3 linked regions of the Homo sapiens genome follow. The protein of the gene in region 1 interacts with the protein of each later gene in a biochemical or structural test. Each region holds a gene or a part of one and is shown on either strand. Other genes may lie near its edges.

Region 1 (7,338 bases):
AATTTTGGGGAGTGCTAAAAACTACAATGAGGCCCATTAGGTCAATGACCCAAAGGATAATTAGAATGATTCTATCCAAAAAAGACCTGCTTTATATATATATATATAGTTAGCAGCTATTACAACTTCCTCTCACCTTGCTCTCCTCCCTCCCTTTTATCTACCCAATGCCAACACAGCACTTAAATTTTTTTTAAATATTGGAAAGGGACCAAGTTATGCTAGATTAAAGGTGGAAGATCTATATTGTGCCCTAGACACCTCCAAACGTTTTTTTTTTCATGTCAGATGGGTAATGTGCTGACCCTGTAACAAGGTTTGAGGATGGCATATCTCACACATGCCTGTGAACACTCAATCATCACACTATGAACCGCAAAAGGATCCCTCAAAACATTTCCCTAAGAATCTGCATTTGTTGCACAAAATAACAAGATGTCATTCATCTCCCTTAAAGAGCAAAAGCGTAACTGGCATAATTTCTATCATGAAAATCCACACACTCTTGGCTCACACAACCAGCACAAAATAGAAATAAAGTAGACAGTGCAGTTAAGATTGGGGAAAAAATGAGAAGAGTTGGTATCAAGAAAACAGCCACAGTAAGGGCATTTGCAATTAAGAACCAAAAATTCAATCCATCCTTTACAAAATTATAGAACCTCACCTCAAAAAAAAAAGAAAAAAAAGTCGAAGGAGAATGAAATACATTTAGAAGGTTGGTCAATTCTTTTCAGTTGTTTGCAAACACACGTAACTTTCAAGCCTGAGTGTGTTTTTTAAAAATAAAGATTTCCGGGCGGGGCGCGGTGGCTCACGCCTTTAATCCCAGCACTTTGGGAGGCCGAGGCGGGAGGATCACGAGGTCAGGAGATCGAGACCATCCTTGCTAACACGGTGAAACCCCGTCTCTACTAAAAAAAAATACAATAAATAAATAAATAAAGATTTCCAGGCCCCACCTGCCCGAACATTCTTTTGTTAAGTTTGAAATGGAGCCTGGGAATTGGTATGTTTACTTAAAAAGTTCCCCGGGGACTCTGATCATCAGTCAGGTCTGTCAGAAGGGCTATACACCTTCTCAACAAGGGCTCTTTCCAACCCTTACTCACACCCTAGCTGTCCATAAAATTTTATCAAAGTTCTTGTAAATATGCCTGCCAATCAAACGCATGCGTTATCTCACCCAACCCCTTTGTGTTCTCCCCCACCCTGGGTAGCATCTCAATTTCGGCTCATTCCTCATAACAGAAGTCTTCCTTTCTCCTCTCCACCCTTGTATTAATCAAGTAATAAGTAAGCAGAAAGGTAAAACAAAGGGGAACGCTCATTTCAATGCCCGAAAATCCTGTCAGTTTTAAGAGACCAGAGAAGAAAACTCATTCTAGATCCCTCTAACACATAGTGGACTGGAAACGAAACAAAACGCTCTCGAGGGTGTTCTGTGAAGCAGGGTTGAGGGGAAGTTACAGAAGAGCTCTTGGACCGAGGGGACGGACCAAGGTTCTGAAAGAGGAAACTTGAAAGCAGGGCAGGTCGCGGGGCGAGCGGGCCCGCGCGAGCACCGCCGGCCGCTTTTGACACTCGACACCCCAGCCTTCACCCGGGTTGCTAAGAAACAAAAAGGCTCCAAGATCCCTGCAATTCCTCCCGGGCCTGGCGGAGACGACAGGGGCCTCCGGGGCCTGAAGACGCCGCAGGGAACGGCCTGGCCACTGCCCCGGGGGCGCGAAAGCCAGGGAGAGCGGGAGAGCGGGAGAGCGGGAGAGCGGGAGAGCGGGAGCTTGGGCTGAGGGGGCTGGACGCGGGGAGCGGGCCCCGAGGCTGAGGAAAAGGCCGCCCCGGGACTCTGAGGGGCGGGGAACGGGACCTCGCGGGGCAGCGACGCTCGGGCAGGCCGCGGCGGGCTCGGTTCCCGCCAGGCGGCAGCCCGGGGTCCCGGGCCGGAGGCCGGGCCTAAGCGACAACCCGGCTCCGCGAGGGGGAGGGGGCGTCTACTCACACGTGCTGACAGGCCGTGGTCCGCACGGGCGTTTTGAGCACCTCCTGACAGACGGGGCAGTAGAAATCATCTTCGGTGTAGGACGTGGCCGCAGAGAGGTCCTCGGCCATGGCGGGGGATGGGGAAACAAGGCGATGGCGACAGCGGCAGCGGCCGAGGTGACGGTGGCGGCCCGGGGCCCGACTCCCTACATGAACCCGGAGGGGGGAGGGGGATCGCATCAGGATACAGCGCGCGCCAGGAAGGGGGCGGGGCCCTGGGTAGGGCGGGGCCGAACGCAGAGACGCTACTGCCGCACGCGCCGGGCAAGAGGCGACCCCTCCCACGGCTCCTCCCACAGGGGGCTGGATGGGGGACGGTGCTTGGCGGGAGGCTGGGCTCGCAGCATGCCGTGGGCCCGCCCCGCTCGCCCCTCACCCCGCCCCAGGACGCGGCCTCACGCTCTAGGCCACGCCCTCACCGGGCTCCAGGCGCGGGCTCGCGCCCCGCCCTCAGCCCCCGTCTTCGCCCAAGGCCTCCCTTTTCACTGCTTTTCCGCCTCTACTCACCCCGACCCCGAGCCCCGAGTGCCCAGCCCGTGTCCGCGGCTTCCTCCCCGCCCCGCTTCCCGGCACCCCGGCCCCTCCACGCTTCCGCCGGGGAGACTCTCACCTAGGAGCCCCGAAGCGGCGTTGTGGACGGAGCTGCTTTTCCTTCACGTGTTCGTAGAGACCCGGCCCAGCGCTTTCCTCGAGCTTCCTGTCCGGCCGCCGCTATCTTCGCAGCCGAGGCCCCGGGGCAAATGGAGGGCGGCGTGCGCTGTGCTTATCGGCCCCTAACGGGGCCGGAGCCGAGGCTCATGGTGCAGGGAGATTCGCCCGCCGCCGCCAGCAGCTCTGTCTTGGCATTGCGCTGCCTACAGCCTACCCGGCCGTCACCGAACGCGGGAGCGCCGGGGATCTGGGCGGAGGAGCCAGGAGAGGCGGGGAGGCACGGGGTGTGAAGTGCGGCCTGTATAGCAACCGGCGCACGGCGCCTTCCGCGGGTTGTGACGTAAGCAGCTGGGCGCCCGCGGTGACACCTGCGCCTCCCCGCCCCGCCTCGCTAGGCCCGGGACCCCAGTTACCTCTCCTGTCAAATACATTGGGCCTTTCAGGAAGTTTTCGTCAATGTTCAAGATTTAGTCTTTACTATTTGCCCTACCAGAATGTTTTGATCTTGTCAAGATGTGTTATAAACAAATATTTGTTACGGGATTTTAATCCTTTGGGGGCAGGATTAAAGTTTCCTTGAGAGGATGTCCACTTTCTCCTTTAACAGCATGACCGATGCTTAAATACGGTCGCAGATGCAGTCTTCTACTACACCTTTGGGTTGATTTTTGATTTTTTCTTTTTTTTTTTAGCTTTGAAGAGAAATGCCGTAGAAGCATGGACGTGGCTTTTCACCAAGGTTATTCACTAATTTAAGTGTTTTTTTTAATTTTATTTTATTTTATTTTATTTTTTGAGACAGGTACTCACTCTGTCTCCCAGGCCGGAGTGCAATTATCTGTACAATTGATAATCTATAAGATGGTCCAACCTGCGTAACAGAGTGAGATTCCGTCTCAAAAAAAAAAAAAAAAAAGAAAGAAAAAAGGCCGGGCGCGGTGGCTCACACCTGTAATCCCAGCCCTTTGGTAAGCGAAGGCGGTTGGATCACTTGAGGTCAGGAGTTCAAGACCAGCCTGGCCAACGTGATGAAATCCCATCTCTACTAAAAATACAAAAATTAACCGGACATGGTGGTGGGAGCCTGTAATCCCAGGTACTCGGGAGGCTGAGGCACGAGAATCGCTTGTACCCGGGAGGCAGAGGTTGCAGTGAGCCGCGATCGCGCCGCTGCACTCCAGCCCTGGCGACAGAGTGAGACTCTCAAAAAAAAAGAAGAACAAAAAAAGGATAAATCGATAAGATGGGATCCACAATGACGTGAAAGAAGCTAAGGAAAATCTGGAACATTATACAGCATCTACAATTAGCTTCAGAGAAAAGAAAGGTTTTATTACCATCCTTTGTTAAAACCCTCCCCCATGGTCTAAATGAATAAACAGAAGCCATTTAAGGGACTATTTAAATCAATTCTGCCATTTATTGTCTATGTTGACATTGGCATTGTTAGGTGTTATGCAGATGTCATGAACTTTGCTCTCAACCTGTTTACATTATTACATATCTATCAGAATGAGAGAGAAAAAATGGTATTTGCCAAAGTATTAAATTTTGCATTAAACGATGGCTATAATGAGGATAGGAAATGGAATGATTAGAAATATATAGAGTTAACAGAAAACTTTATGGAGGAAATGGGTTTTAATGTACATCTCAAAAGCATTGATTCCTAGAATAATAATAATTTGTCCAATGAATAGCTAATTCCCTCTACCAAACTATATTTTGTATTTTTGTTGCTTTTCCTCCTTAGCAGCAAGCGCAGTGGAAGCAAGACAAGAAAGCTAATACTAGCTTCAGATTTCCTGGAAGGAGGAAGAGCACGTGACGAGAGGGGCAGCTAATAGCAGTAGTTCAGGTGCTTTTCACATTCACTTATAAAATGGTTCTTTGAGTTCAAATTTTTAACAGCCCAGAGAAGAAAACTCACTTTTTTTCTTTTTTCTTTTGAGACAGAATCTCACTCTGTCACCCAGGCTGGGGTGCAGTGGAATGATCTCAGCTCACTTCAACCTGCGCCTTCCAGGTTGAAGCAACTCTCCTGCCTCAGCCTCCCAAGTAGCTGAGATTACAGGCATGCACCACCATGCCAAACTAATTTTTGCATTTTTAGTAGAGACAGGGTTTTGCCATGTTGGCCAGGCTAGTCTCGAACTCCTGGCCTCCAGCGATCCGCCCACCTTGGCCTCCCAAAGTGCTGGAATTACAGGCCTGAGCCACTGTGCCTGGCCTACATTTTACTTTTTTGATAATTCCACTCATTTCATTCATTCTGACCATTTAGGAAGTAAGGTGTATTTTCTGTATAATAGTGTTTCCCATTATTCATTGGGAATATCTAACCATAACATTAATTTTGTGACCCTAATTTTATTTGCTTCATTCTTTCTCTGCAACGGCAGCTTTACTTATGTCTAATCCAAACATATTTGTATCACTCCCCCATATATTCTAATAAGTCATTCGGTATACACGTAAGCATATAGCTGGCAATATGTGGAAATCCAGCAAAAACTTGGACATAAGAAAAATATAGATACCCTTGGAAAGTTAAGCTTAAAAAAATAAGTTGCAATTACCAATGACACAATCTTCTTTCTTGGCAACATTTCTGGTGAAAAGCTACTTGATATTTTTATAAGAATGTCATAGATTTACTCAAAATACATTCAGCTGCGTAAATAAAATGTCCTCAGCCTTTGGTCATTAGAAGGGAAAACCCTAGATGTAGACCGATTTGGTAAACTGTGCTGCAATAATTTAAACAGTTCCTTTAAGTTTGGGTTAAACCAGTCAGTCCCTCTCAGTGGGCTTCCCTCAGAATGGCATTTGGGAGAAGGGAAGGGAGGATGATGGGTAGCTGACATGAACTCAAGGCACTATAGGGGAATCTGGCTCCTGAAATCTGCAAGTTCTCTTTTGCATTTTTGCCGGATTTTCTTTAGCCAGACTAATTTTCTCTGCTCCTTGAGATGTAATGTGTCCTGGGTGTTCTCTTGCTGAAACTTGCTGATGAAGATTGCTCGGACCTGTCTCTCAGCTGGGCCAAGGCCCTGAGATATGTCCTAGCTTCACCAACACTGTAAAACCTTCTGATTCCTGCCACGATCACCTTCCAATTCCTTAACCCTCAACATGGCAGGCTCCTTAGCAGGCTCTCTGGCTCTCAACACAACTACTGTCTATGACATCCTTTGTGGTTCTCCCTCTGGTTCTGAACAGCCTGTAAGGCCATGTGCTTCCAGGGCACACACTCCAACCCATCTAAACCACCTTTCCCCCCCAGAATGAAGCCCCTACTTTGTTTCTTCTCCTACAGTCTCTTGGATTAGAAGGAATGGACTTTTCCCCTTGCCACTTCTTGCTGATTGGGTGCTCTAAAACTCTCCAGTCAAGACCAGGCGTGGTGGATCATGCTCCTAATCCCAGCACTCTGGGAGGCCGAGGCAGGCAGATCACTTGAGGTCAGGAGTTCGTGACCAGCCTGGACAACATGGCGAAACCTGTCTCTACTAAAATACAAAAATTAACCGGGCATGGTATGCATGCCTATAGTCCCAGCTACTCCAGAGGCTGAGGCAGAAGAGTGGCTTGAACCCAGGAGGCAGAAGTTGCAGTGAGCTGAGATGGCACCACTGCTCTCCAGCCTGGGTGACAGAGCGGGACTCTGTCTCAAAAAATAAAAAATCAAAATAAGTAAATAAAACTCTCCAGTCAAGTTCGATGGATCTTGATATGCAAAAGAGAAAAATAAAATAATTTAGAATACTGATTTCTTGACAAGGCCTGGCTTTATCTTACTACAAACCTTCAAAATCCTGTTTTGCTGGTAAAAGTGATTGCCTTTGAAGAAGTGAACTGGGAAGCTGGAGGATGGAACAGGAGAGAGGCTCATGTTTCACTCTCTACCCTTTGGTATCTTTGTAAATTGCTACCATGTGCAGTGTTGACACTCAGCTGGTTTGTACCAGTACCATTTTCCTAGTCTTTTTCAGCCTTGTCCATCCTGACTGGTGAGTAGTCTGTCCTGAATGACCAGTGCCAATTTGGTTCCAGTTGCTAAATATTTTTATTTTAGCAAATATTAGCTAAATATTACTCTTGACTATGTACATACACAACTGTTCCATGAAAGGGCTATATATGCAAAGTGACTCTCAAATGCAGAAGAAGCCAAAAATCCAAAGAAGAGGCAAACAAATCCAGTTTGCTGGTAGCAGGTGATTTACTGGGGAACTTGTGGATGGAAGTGTGGTCTTGGGCAGCAGCAAGACAGGTGGATCTTCGTATTGTTATCCTGCAGACCATAAGGAAAGGGTATACATAATGTGCAGGAAAATTAAAGTTCACCCCTGAGGGAAAGACAAGAATACTATGTGCATTACAGCCTATAATTTGCTTAAGGGCAGGATTTATGATTAAGACCATGCTCTTTTTACACAAGGAATCATAAAGAAGAACTCTTAGGGGCATTCCTGGAACTGGGGTTAATCAGAAGTCAACCTAGCATGTTAACATCCATGATGGAGTTCTTTAACCTCCACAATAACCAATTGTGTAGGGAAAACTCTAACCATATTTTACCTTTACTCTCACGCACCACAACAATCAACACAGAAGAAGACTTCTGTGAACAAATATGTG
Region 2 (7,116 bases), on another chromosome or scaffold:
CAATTCTCCTGCCTCAGCCTCCCGAGTAGCTAGGATTACAGGCATGCACCACCACGCCTGGCTAATTTTGTATTTTTAGTAGAGACGAGGTTTCTTCATGTTGGTCAGGCTGATCTCAAACTCCCGACCTCAGGTGATCAACCTGCCTTGGCCTCCCGAAGTGCTGGGATTACAGGCGTAAGCCACCACGCCTGGCTTTTTTTTTTTTTTTGAGATAGGGTCTCACGTCTCACTGTGTCACCCAGGCTAGAATTCAGTGGCATGGTCACAGCTCACTGCAATCTTGACCTCCCAGGCTGAGGTGATCCTCCCACATCAGCTCCCCCAAGTAGCTGGGACTACAGGCATGTGCCACCACACCCAGCTAATTTTTGTATTTTTTTGGTAGAGACAGGGTTTTTGCCACGTTGCCCAGGCCAGTTTTGAACTCCTGGGCTCAAGCAATCTGACCACCTCAGCCTCTCAAAGTGCTGGGATTACAGGTGTGAGCCAGCCCTTGCCCATTTTCTAATTGAATTGTTTGATTTTTTATTGTTGGGTTTTAAGAATTCTTTCTTCATTCTAGATACAAGTCCTTTGTTGAATACATGGCTTGTAACTATGTTTCCCATTCTGTACTTCTCTTTTCATTCTGTTTTGCACAGCAAAAGTTTTAAATTTTGATTAGGCCCCATTAATCAAAAATTTTTTCATGGATCATACTTTTGGCATCAAATCTAAGAACTCTTTGCCTAGATTTTCTCCTGTTTTGTTCTAAAAATTAGACAATTTGGTTTTACATTTAAGTCTATGATCCATTTTCAATTTTTGTATAAGGTATAAGGTTTAGGTTGATTATTGTATATTTTTAGCCTATGATGTCCAATAGCTCCAGCGCCCTTTGTTCAAAGGCTGTCTTTCCTCCAACACATTGTTTCTGTACCCTTGTCAAAAATCAATTGTGTGTAATCCCAGCATTTTGGGAGGCTGAGGCGGGAGCATTGCTTGAGCCCAGGAGTTTGAGGCCAGCCTGGGCAACATAATGAAACCCTGTCTCTATAAAAAAAATACAAACAGGCTGGGCGCGGTGGCTCACGCCAGTGATCCCAGCACTTTGGGAGGCCGAGGCGGGCGATCACCTGAGGTCAGGAGTTCAAGACCAGCCTGGCCAACATGGTGAAACCCCATCTCTATTAAAAATACAAGATTAGCTGGGCATGGTGGCATGCACCTGTAATCCCAGCTACCCGTGAGGTCGAGGCAGGTGAATCAAACCCGGGAGGCGGGGGTTGCAGTGAGCCGAGATCACGCCATTGCACTCCAGTCTGGGCAAAAAGAGAGAAACTCAGGCCAGGCGCGTTGACTCACACCTGTAATCCCAGCACTTTGGGAGTCCGAGGCGGGTGGATCACCTGAGGTCAGGAGTTCGAGACCAGCCTGACCAACATGGAGAAACCCCGTCTCTACTAAAAATACAAAAAAGTTAGCCAGGCCTGGTGGCATGTGCCTGTAGGAGAATCGCTTGAACCCGGGAGGCGGAGGTTGCGGTGAGCCGAGATCACGCCATTGCACTCCAGGTCAGGCAACAAGAGCGAAACTCCATCTCAAAAAAAAAAAAAAGAGAGAGAGAGAAACTCCGTCTAAAAAAAAAAAAATACAAATACAAATAACCAGGCATGGTGTCCCACACCTGTAGTCCCAGCTACTCGGGAGGCTTGGGGTGGAAGGATTGCCTGAGCCCAGGGAGGTCAAGGCTGCAGTGAGCTGTAATAGCAGCAGTACCCTCCATCCTGGGTGACAGAGCAAGACTCTGTCTCAAAAAAAAAAAAATTAGTTGTGTATACTTGTGGAGGTCTATTTCTGGGTTATCTATTCTGTTCCACTGATCTGTGTCCATCTGTCCCTTGGTCAATACCACACTAGGCTTAATTATGTAGCTATATAGCAAGTCTTAACCCTGGGTAGACTGATTCCTCCAGCTATCCTTTTTCCAAATTGTTTTAGCTAATCTAGGTAAAACTGGTCTTCCCGTAATTATTAGAATAAGCTTGTCTATGTCTATAGAAAAAAAAAACTTGCTGGGATTTTAATAGGAACTGCGTTAAATTACAGATCAACTTGGGGACAATTGAAATCTTCATTATGTTCAGTCTCCCAATCCATGAACAAAGTACATGTCATCCATTTATCCGAGTCATCTTTGATCTCTTTCATCAACAATTTAAAAATTTTCAGCATACAGATTCTACACATGCTTTGTTAGACTTATACCCAAGTATTTCATTTCTCTGAAACAACTATAAATGGCATTGTGTTTTTGTTTGTTTGTTTATTTGCTTGTTTTTTTGAGACGGAGTCTCGCTCTGTCGCCCAGGCTGGAGTGCAGTGGCGCAATCTTGGCTCACTGCAAGCTCTGCCTCCCAGGTTCACGTCATTCTCGTGCCTCAGCCTCCCCAGCAGCTGGGACTACAGGCACACACTGCCACGCCCAGCTAATTTTTGTATTTTCAGTAGAGATGGGGTTTCTCTGTGTTAGCCAGGATGGTCTCGATCTCCTGACCTTGTGATCTGCCCACCTCAGCCTCCCAAAGTGCTGGGATTACAGGCGTGAACCACCACGCCCAGCCATTTTGTTTGTTTTGTTTTTTTGAGACAGTTTCACTCTGTCACCCAGGTTGAAGTGCAGTGGCACAATATCCGCTCACTGTAACCTGCATCTCCCAGATTCAAGTGATTCTCCCGTCTCAGCCTCCCAAGTGGCTGGGATTACAACCACCCACCACCACGCCCAGCTAATTTTTGTATTTCTAGTAAAGACCAGGTTTCATCATATTGGCCAGGCTGGTCTCGAACTCCTGACCTCAGGTGATCCACTTGCCTCGACCTTCCAAAGTGCTGGGATTACAGGCATGAGCCACTGCGGCCGGCCAATAAATGGTAGTGTTTTTTATTTTAGTTTTGACATGTTCACTGTGAGTATAGAGAAATGCAGTTGATTTGTATGTGTTGGTCTTGTATCCTCACTAGTCCTAGGAGTTTGTAATTATTTGTTATTTGCTTGTTTTTGTTTGTCTTGCTCATCTAGCTGAGAGCACCATGGGGCAAGGACTGGGTCCGATCCCTGTCGCATCCCCAGCACTAGCACAGTGCCTGAAACACAGGAGGCACCCAATAATCATTCCAGAAAAATGAGTAACAGAAAGGTGCTATCACTTTTATTTCGCTTCTGTATCATCAACACTGGCTGTGAAAGACTTGGGATAAACCTCATGACATGCCAATTCCTAAACCAGGTTCTCTCCCTCAACCACATGAAACAGGTCACCACCTACCCTCCATGCCCTGCCCTATCTCTAGGCTGAAGTTTCTTCTATGCCACGGCCTGTACCAATGCCTGATCACATGCGTACCTTTCCTAGCCCTACAATCACCTTCCTAGGTTCCAGTCCTTGAGATGGTTCTTGATGACCTCCCATGACCTCTCTGTATATGCCGAACAGCACTTTAGTAAGCATCCCATCCATTTTTTTTTTCTTTTTGAGACGGAGTCTCGCTCTGTCACCAGGCTGGAGTGCAGTGGTGTGCTCTCGGCTCACTGCAACCTCCGCCTCTCGGGTTCAAACAATTCTCCTGCCTCAGCCTCCCGAGTAGCTGGGATTATAGGCACCCACCACCACGCCTGGCTAATTTTTGTATTTTTAGTAGAGATGGGGTTTCGCCATGTTGGCCAGGCTGGTCTCAAACTCCTGACCTCAGGTGACCCACTCGCCTTGGCCTCCCAAAGTGCTGGGATTATAGGCATGAGCCACCGTGCCTGGCCCCCAACCATTTTAATTCCAGGGACTCCCCATGATTATACCCACAGGTTCCTGCCAGTCAAAACACTCTGGTTACCACTCTAGCCCTGTGGCTTCTTGAGATAATTGTGCTCACCCCATCTCTGTTTAATAAGTATCCAGCCTCTACCACTCCTGATTCCATTCTTCCCATTGAGATCAGAGGAACCCCAGTGTGGTCCCCAGACCAGGTGCATCAGCAACCTTTAAGGACTAGCTAGAAATGCAAATTCACAGCTCCGCTCCCCAAGACCTACTGAATCAGAAACTCTGGGAATGCAGCCCACACTTGAAACTTGAGTTTCAACAAGGCCTCCAAGTGATTTTGAAGCCTGCTCAAGTTTCAGAACCATTAGACTAGAGTAGTTAGTCTCAATCCTGCCTGCACATTAAAATCAGGGGAGTTGGCTGGACGCAGTGGCTCTCGCCTGTAATCCTAGCACTTTGGGAGGCCGAGGCGGGTGGATCACGAGGTCAGGAGATCGAGACCATCCCGGCTAACACGGTGAAACTCCGTCTCTACTAAAAATACAAAAAATTAGCTGGGCGTGGTGGCGGGCGCCTGTAGTCCCAGCTACTTGGGAGGCTGAAGCAGGAGAATGGCATGAACCCGGGAGGTGGAGCTTGCAGTGAGCCGAGATCGCGCCACTGCACCCCAGCCTGGGCGACAGAGCAAGATTCCGTCTCAAAAAAATAAAATTAATTAATTAAATAAAATAAAATCAGGGGAGTTTTTTAAAAAATGCCTATGTCAGCAGTACCCAAAGTTGTCTGCACATTGGATTCACCTGGGAGCTTCAAAAAAATACTGATGCCTGGCCAGGCATGGTGGCTCATACCTGTCATCTCAACACTTTGGGAGACAGAGGTAGGATTGCTTGAGCCCAGGAATTTGAGACCAGCCTTGGCAACACAGCAAGACCCCTGTCTCTACAAAAAAAAAAAATTTTTTTTAATTAGCCAGGCATGGTGGTGAGCACCTGTAGTCCCAGCTACTTGGGAGGCTGAGGCAGGGAGACTGCCTGAGTCCAGGAGTTCAAGGCTGCAGTGAACTATGATTGTGCACCACTGCACTCCTGCCTGGGCAACAGAGCAAGACCCTGTCTCTAAAAAACAAATTAAAAAATTAAAAAATACTGATGCCTGTGTCCCACTCACAGTGAATGAGATTAATTGGTCTGGGGGAGACTTGGACTTCGTAATGTTTAAAAGAGTCCTCAGGTGACTCCAATGGGCACACAAGTTTGGGAACCACTGACCTAGACTAATTAAATTAGAATATATAGAGTTGGGACCAGAGCATGAATATCTCAAGTTTCCCAGATGATTCTAACGTGCAGCTGGGGTTGAAGCACTGGTGTTGACTCTAGTCAAGAATCAACCACATCCTTGGCTGTGGAGATCAGTCTGTATAAGGTATTCCCAAATCCACCTTCCAGCCAACTTCTCACCTGAGTTTCCATTCCGTGCCTCTCCGACTGCCCAGAGAACCTTCCTACCAATATGTCCCCATCACCTTTAACTCCGCATGTCAACAGGGAGAGACCCCTGTCTTGCCCCATGAAGCAGAAGTACACCTGGGTTTTACCACTGCCTAGAATACAGGTGATTTCTGGGACTTATCCTCTGCCTTTCCCTCTGAACTGCCTTTTAGCCATTCTTTCAGTCATCCATTCACACACCACTTCAATGCCTCATATTTCCTGACAGTCTTATTCTAAAATGAGGGGACTGTGGGATGAACAGACCTAGCTCTGGCCTATAAGGAATAATCAATCTCCCTCATCAACATAGCTTTTCCCAAAGTACGTTACATGCTATAACACCCTGTAAGGAATCATTGCACCTCAGCACTAAAGGTTCTGAGGCGGCCTACAACAGAGAAACCTGTTTAATTTGGATTAGTCAGGCATTTCTCAAACTTCTGACTACAGAACTCCCCTCCTCCCAAGTTTTAAAGTTACACCATTAACTGTCCACAGCACACGGTAAGAAAGGCTAGAGACTGGGCATGGTAGCTCACGCCTGTAATCCCAGCACTTTGGAAGGCCAAGGCGGGCGGATCACGAGGTCAGAAGATCGAGACCATCCTGGCCAACATGGCGAAAGTCCATCTCTACTAAAAATACAAAAAATTAGCTGGGCGTTGATGGCACGCACCTGTAGTCCCAGCTACTCGGGAGGCTGAGTCAGGAGAATCACTTGAACCCTGGAGGCGGAGGTTGCAGTGAGCCGAGATCACGCCACTGCACTCCAGCCTGGCAACAGAGTGAAACTCCGTCAAAAAAAAGAAAGAAAGAAGGAAAGAAGGAAAGGAAGGAAGGAAGGAAGGAAGGAAGGAAGGAAGGAAGGAAGAAAGAAAAGGAAGAAAGGAAAGAAAGAAAGAAAGAAAGAAAGAAAGAAAGAAAGAAAGAAAGAAAGAAAGAAAGGCTAGAAACCTGGTGAGTCAGCTTTGATTCTTCACAATACATTCCAAACTCCGACAAAAAAAAAAAAGAAAGAAAGAAAGAAAGGCTAGAAACCTGGTGAGTCAGCTTTGATTCTTCACAATACATTCCTCCTGGTAGTAGGTCTTGTCACAGTTCCTCTTCAACATGTCTCCCACTGTTCTAGACTGGACTCACATACCCCAGGCCAGCACTGCCAGGGCCCTGCTTGGCCTCTGCCACCCTTCCACCCTGCACACCTCTACCCCACTGTCTATAACCCTGCTTTCACAATGGCCTCCCGCCTCCAGGGAGACAGCCGGGCAGATGAGTTAAGAGCCGCGTTCTTAGACTTAGGAGTGTGACAAGCATGAACTCAAATAACTGGTCTGCCGTTTGCTAACTGCACAATCTTGAACAAGTCATTTAACCTGAGTCCCAATTTCTTCACCTATAGAATGATGATTTATTTTTATTTTATTTTATTTTATTTTATTTTTTTGAGATGGAGTCTTGCCCTGTTGCCCAGGCTGGAGTGCAGTGGTGCGATCTCCGCTCACTGCAAGCTCCGCTTCCCGGGTTCATGCTATTCTCCTGCCTCAGCCTTCCGAGTAGCTGGGACTACAGGCGCCCGCCACCACGCCCAGCTAATATTTTGTACTTTTAGTAGAGACGGGGTTTTACCGTGTTAGCCAGGACAGTCTCGATTTCCTGACCTCATGATCCGCCCACCTCAGCCTCCCAAAGTGCTGTGATCACAGGCGTGAGCCACTGCGCCCGGCCTAGAATGATGATTTAAACAGTAACATGCTCATTGGTGGTTGTGACGAATAAATGAAATAATGTACCGTGAAGTGCTGACCGCAGTGCCTCGT
Region 3 (5,048 bases), on another chromosome or scaffold:
GTGGGAGGGGTGAGGAAGGTACCAGAATGCTCCTAGCCAATCAGGGCTTCTAGCTTGCCACACAAGGTTTCTAGTTTCATTTGACATTTGTGGACATTTTAACAAGATTCTGTTTTGAGCCCACCAAGTTGCTTTTCCCATCTTTTCACTCTGCCCTAATATAGCATGGAATGCTGCTTGGTGCTGTTCCCTTGTCTTCCTGGTTGTTCTCCCTGCTTCTTTCTTTCTCCCTTTCCTTTCCTCTCTCTGTTTTTCTCTGTTGCTTTCTCAGTTTTGCTTATGCCCTCCCCCTCCCCACCTCCTTTCCTTCTCCCATTTTTAAAATGCATGGACATCTTAGTTTTTTGAGCATGTTTTGATCTGCAGGCTAAGGTGGTTTAAAACTCTGAGAGGCTTAATTATTTATCTTGGTTTCTGGGATGGAAGCAGAACCCATAGTCTATTTACTCTCTCCCAGGGAGAAAAAGGAACCTTGCCAAATTGAGGGTGAGAGGGGGTGGTGCTTGCTCCCCTAGAGTTCCTTCTGACCCAGAAGGAACAGACAGACCCTGAGGCCACTAGCCCCCATGAATCTCAGCCTCTGGGAGGCAGGGAGGACTGAGCATGCTCCCTTACACCCCTCCCCTCCTTCCCTGCCTTCCTGCCATCTTGCTGAGTCCAAACCCCAAGCACAGAGGGGCATGATCAGACAGCTCTGGGGCACAGACTGAGAGGAGGAACTCAGCACACCCTTCCTTTCCAAGGCCAGTGACATTGTCTGACAGTGGTTGCCTTCAAGCAGGCAGCATCTTGGTTGCTTCCAGCGGCAGAAAGCTGGCCAGTGCTTACACACGTGTTTCCAGTTGGAGTGTTATCAGCCATGGTTCTGACAATATTCTAGGGTCCTTAGATGAGCACACTTCCTGTATCTGCATTATTTTTATAGCATTAGTGGGGTTGATCCCCAGGCTCACCTTTCCTTACCAAATACCATCCCATCAGACTGGGATTAATGGGAGGAGAAGCTTTGAAGTCACATGCTCAATTTCTTGAGTTGATTTTCCCCGACCTCATCCTTTGATGCTAAGCAAGAAGGGCTCTGAAATTCTCATTCCTATTTCTTACATGAATGAGTAGTGAAGAGGGGAGATGCTGGTTTTGGTGCAGGGCAAAATTAGTCTTTCTGGTTTAAACACGAATCACGATAACCCAAACCCAGGAAGGTCCATGCTGCGATTCCCTGGCACTTCTTCTTTGTAGTCACTTCGGTGACCGGCTTGTGCTGCACCCTCCATTGACTAGCCTTGGCATATTGACAAGAGCAGGATGCCCCTCCATCCATCCCATCCTCACCATCTCTCCTTCCAACCTTCTCACTACGGGGTGGGGGAGGGGAAAGCCCCAAATCTTAAAAAAAAAAAAAAAATCAAGTTTGAATCTTAATTTAATCCACAACCTGCAGGCCATACAACCAGTTATTCTCGTTCCTTTGAATCATTTTCTGTTTTTCTTATTCTTCCCCCTCCCCCACCTTTGTTTATCCTCTTCTACCTGTTTTTGGTGGTTTCTTTTTTTTGTTTCGTTTTTTGTTTTTTGTTTTTGTTTTAAGTTTATTTTGTTTTATTTTTGTTTCCCTTCCTCCCTTCTCACCTGATTCTGACCTCTCTTGATTTGGTGTGGTTCTTAACAGACAAGCCCGAAAGCTCTCTGGGCGCCAGCAGCCTCATGGTGGTGGTGTGTTAAAACCTTTAAGCCTCTTGCTAGCGCTGCCTTCAGCTATGTGGGCTCAACAGTGAGCATTTTGAGAGTTTCATATTGATACGAGGCGGCTGGGGAAGGAGCTCTGTCTTTCTCTTTTAAACACACACACACTCACACTCACACACTCACACACACACATCACTGGGGGATGGGGGTGGTAGTGGTGGGAATGGGAGTGAAGGGCCGAGGAAACTTGATGGGAAAGTGAGGGACTGTCTAAGCCAAAAGAGCTTTTCAGTTCTTCTCAATTTGGACAAAGCCACTTTTTGGCAAATAGATGCCACCATCTGCAGGTGGCCGCCTCCATGCTGCTCTCGTATATAATTTGGGCATGGTGGGGCATGGGTGTTTAGTAGGGGTTGGGGGAAGCAAGTAGAGAGTTCAGACTCTTAAATAAGTTGTTTGCCAGAGCAGGCTTAGATCTGGGCACTGTGAAGTAAGCGACCCACCCTGGGGGGGCGCCACTGTAATTGTCCTCGGACCACTGGGCGTGCCACCTCTGTGGGACATCCCTTAGGTGACCTCAGCTTGGGTGTGAGCATTAGGTAACTCTCTCCCTTGGCATCTGTGCCCTCTATTCACAGATAACTCTCTCCCCTGTTTCTAGGAGAAAAAAAAAGTGCGTTCGCTACATACAAGGTGAAGGCAGCTGCCTCAGCCCACCCTCTTCAGATGGAAGCTTACTAGATTCGCCTCCCCCCTCCCCGAACCTGCTAGGCTCCCCTCCCCGAGACGCCAAGTCACAGACTGAGCAGACCCAGCCTCTGTCGCTGTCCCTGAAGCCCGACCCCCTGGCCCACCTGTCCATGATGCCTCCGCCACCCGCCCTCCTGCTCGCTGAGGCCACCCACAAGGCCTCCGCCCTCTGTCCCAACGGGGCCCTGGACCTGCCCCCAGCCGCTTTGCAGCCTGCCGCCCCCTCCTCATCAATTGCACAGCCGTCGACTTCTTCCTTACATTCCCACAGCTCCCTGGCCGGGACCCAGCCCCAGCCGCTGTCGCTCGTCACCAAGTCTTTAGAATAGCTTTAGCGTCGTGAACCCCGCTGCTTTGTTTATGGTTTTGTTTCACTTTTCTTAATTTGCCCCCCACCCCCACCTTGAAAGGTTTTGTTTTGTACTCTCTTAATTTTGTGCCATGTGGCTACATTAGTTGATGTTTATCGAGTTCATTGGTCAATATTTGACCCATTCTTATTTCAATTTCTCCTTTTAAATATGTAGATGAGAGAAGAACCTCATGATTCTACCAAAATTTTTATCAACAGCTGTTTAAAGTCTTTGTAGCGTTTAAAAAATATATATATATACATAACTGTTATGTAGTTCGGATAGCTTAGTTTTAAAAGACTGATTAAAAAACAAAAAGAAAAAAAAAGCAATTTTGAAGCAGCCCTCCAGAAGGAGTTGGTTCTGTATTATTTGTATTAAATACGAGCTTGCGAACCAATCATTTTACATCTGGTTTTTAAACCGTAAGGGCACCATGAATGCAGTGCCGTTACTTTTTTTTTTTTTTTCTGTGTGAAACAACTCTTATTGTGATGTTACTTGTTATTGTTTAAATGTACAGAAACAAAGGGTAAAAATGTGTTAATATACCTTGTTCCATGGTGTTGTTCTTTTGGGGGGAGGGGACGCTACTCAACACTTAATAGAATCACAACGCTGTTGGGCCAGTAGTATTTATTGCTTTAGAGATTGCTTGTCGTACCTGTATGTCGTCCCTTTTTAAATATGTTTTCCTTTTTCTTGAAACTGTATAAAGTTTTTTTCCCCCTTAGCATAAGCATCTTATATATAACAACTCATTTGTACAAGGTTTTTAAGTTTATATATAAAATGTGTATATATATTTTTGTTTCCCCTTTTTGACTTTTTTTTTTCTGTATGAAACCCAGATGTCACCAAATGGACATTAATAGTTGCATTAAGGATCAGTAGCATTAACAAAAGTTGCTTTAAAAGCCATTATGTAAAACAAGACTTGAAAATGAGTGAGGGAATTTTAGCGACACTGTCTGAGCAGCAGTGGGAACCATCTTCGTTTCCCCTTTGAACTCCCAGTGGGATGCCCTACCCTGCGCCCTTAGGACCCGGACTGACCGTGTACAAAACTTTACGTGCCAAAATTCTCAGTGAATTTAGCTTTCTCCCTCTTTTTGATGCTGTAATTTTTGTTCATCATGTTTTGCTGTGATGTTACATAGGTAGATTTGTATGTAGTTTTAATGTCACCTATAACAAAATGTGTTTGGTAGCAGATTGTCCAGAAAGCATTTTAAATGAAGAGGTATAAACCCTTAAGGGCCAAAATTCTGTATATTAGATTACTCTTAAACGAAAAACCAGCTGCCGCTTTTATGTACACATATTACATACGAGTAGGCAGCAGACTTTAAAAATAAAAAAAACCTAGGCATGTTGATGTTGCAAAATGCTGTATAAAGCTGAAACCTGTTCATTCAGTGCCATTGTAGTTGACATGAAGCGATTGTAAAACTGTCTCCGATTTTTCTCTGGTTTATTAAAATGCTAACTATAACATTTTTTGTGAATACTTTGAATGTTTCCTAACAGTTGTGATGTTACTGTTCCGTTTTATGCTCTTATTCCAAGTTCATTTTTAATGGTTTGGAAGCCATTTTTGTAATGAATAAATGTTCATGCTGTACAGTATCTGTAGCATGCCGTTCTGGATTAATAAAAGCAACTTAGTATGTGCAGATAAAGGCTGGTCACTTGTTTCTGTGATTTGGATTTTTATCTCTAGGGAAACTGGACCTACCGTAATCAAGAAAAACATATTCCCACGTTGGAACTTGACCATACAGTTAGTGTGTAGGTGATGACTTAGATACCAGAACGTGGTCTTGGACTCTTTTGAGGGGTTGATCCCCTCCCCTCCATCCTCGTGGCCCATTTGGTGTATCTGGTTTGCATAATGTGTCATTTGCAATGGAGATGATCAGTATCAAAGGGGATCCCTGGTGTGTGTCTTCTGTAGTATTTCACCGTGCCATTCCCAGTAGTTTGTTGCTGAAAGCAAAGCACAGTTACAGAGCAAATGTCACTTTTTTGGGGGCTATAAACCAGTTTCTCTGAAATATCCTACTCATCCTCTCACAGTAGCAAGCAGAAAGAATTTAATTCTGGTGAATGAGACTTAGTCCACCAAGAGTGCACTTAAGAAACCACATCCTTAGCAGTTAAGGATCATGGGTGTGAAAGCATCCTAACCTCCAAGAGTTGCATCCTGGGAGAGATGCAAGGGTATCAAACTGCCCTTTCTCTAGCAGTGAGCGATTA

What was found.
Region 2: of the proteins of RNF138 (region 1) and RAD51D, one has a biochemical effect on the other in vitro, tested with the Homo sapiens proteins (one study listed by BioGRID).
Region 3: of the proteins of RNF138 (region 1) and TCF7L2, one has a biochemical effect on the other in vitro, tested with the Homo sapiens proteins (one study listed by BioGRID).

What each region holds. Positions count from the first base shown.
Region 1 is NC_000018.10:32,087,551-32,094,888, reverse strand, and holds the start of RNF138 (E3 ubiquitin-protein ligase RNF138), read right to left. Parts: upstream 3,016-7,338; 5' UTR 2,654-3,015; intron 2,202-2,653; exon of another isoform or gene 2,190-2,201; 5' UTR 2,113-2,189; coding exon 2,003-2,112; intron 386-2,002; exon of another isoform or gene 283-385; intron 1-282. UniProt on the Homo sapiens protein: E3 ubiquitin-protein ligase involved in DNA damage response by promoting DNA resection and homologous recombination.
Region 2 is NC_000017.11:35,109,770-35,116,885, forward strand, and holds part of RAD51D (DNA repair protein RAD51 homolog 4), read right to left. Parts: coding exon of another isoform or gene 7,090-7,116; intron 1-7,089. UniProt on the Homo sapiens protein: Involved in the homologous recombination repair (HRR) pathway of double-stranded DNA breaks arising during DNA replication or induced by DNA-damaging agents. Bind to single-stranded DNA (ssDNA) and has DNA-dependent ATPase activity.
Region 3 is NC_000010.11:113,163,208-113,168,255, forward strand, and holds the end of TCF7L2 (transcription factor 7-like 2), read left to right. Parts: intron 1-2,347; coding exon 2,348-2,765; 3' UTR 2,766-4,471; downstream 4,472-5,048. UniProt on the Homo sapiens protein: Participates in the Wnt signaling pathway and modulates MYC expression by binding to its promoter in a sequence-specific manner. Acts as a repressor in the absence of CTNNB1, and as activator in its presence.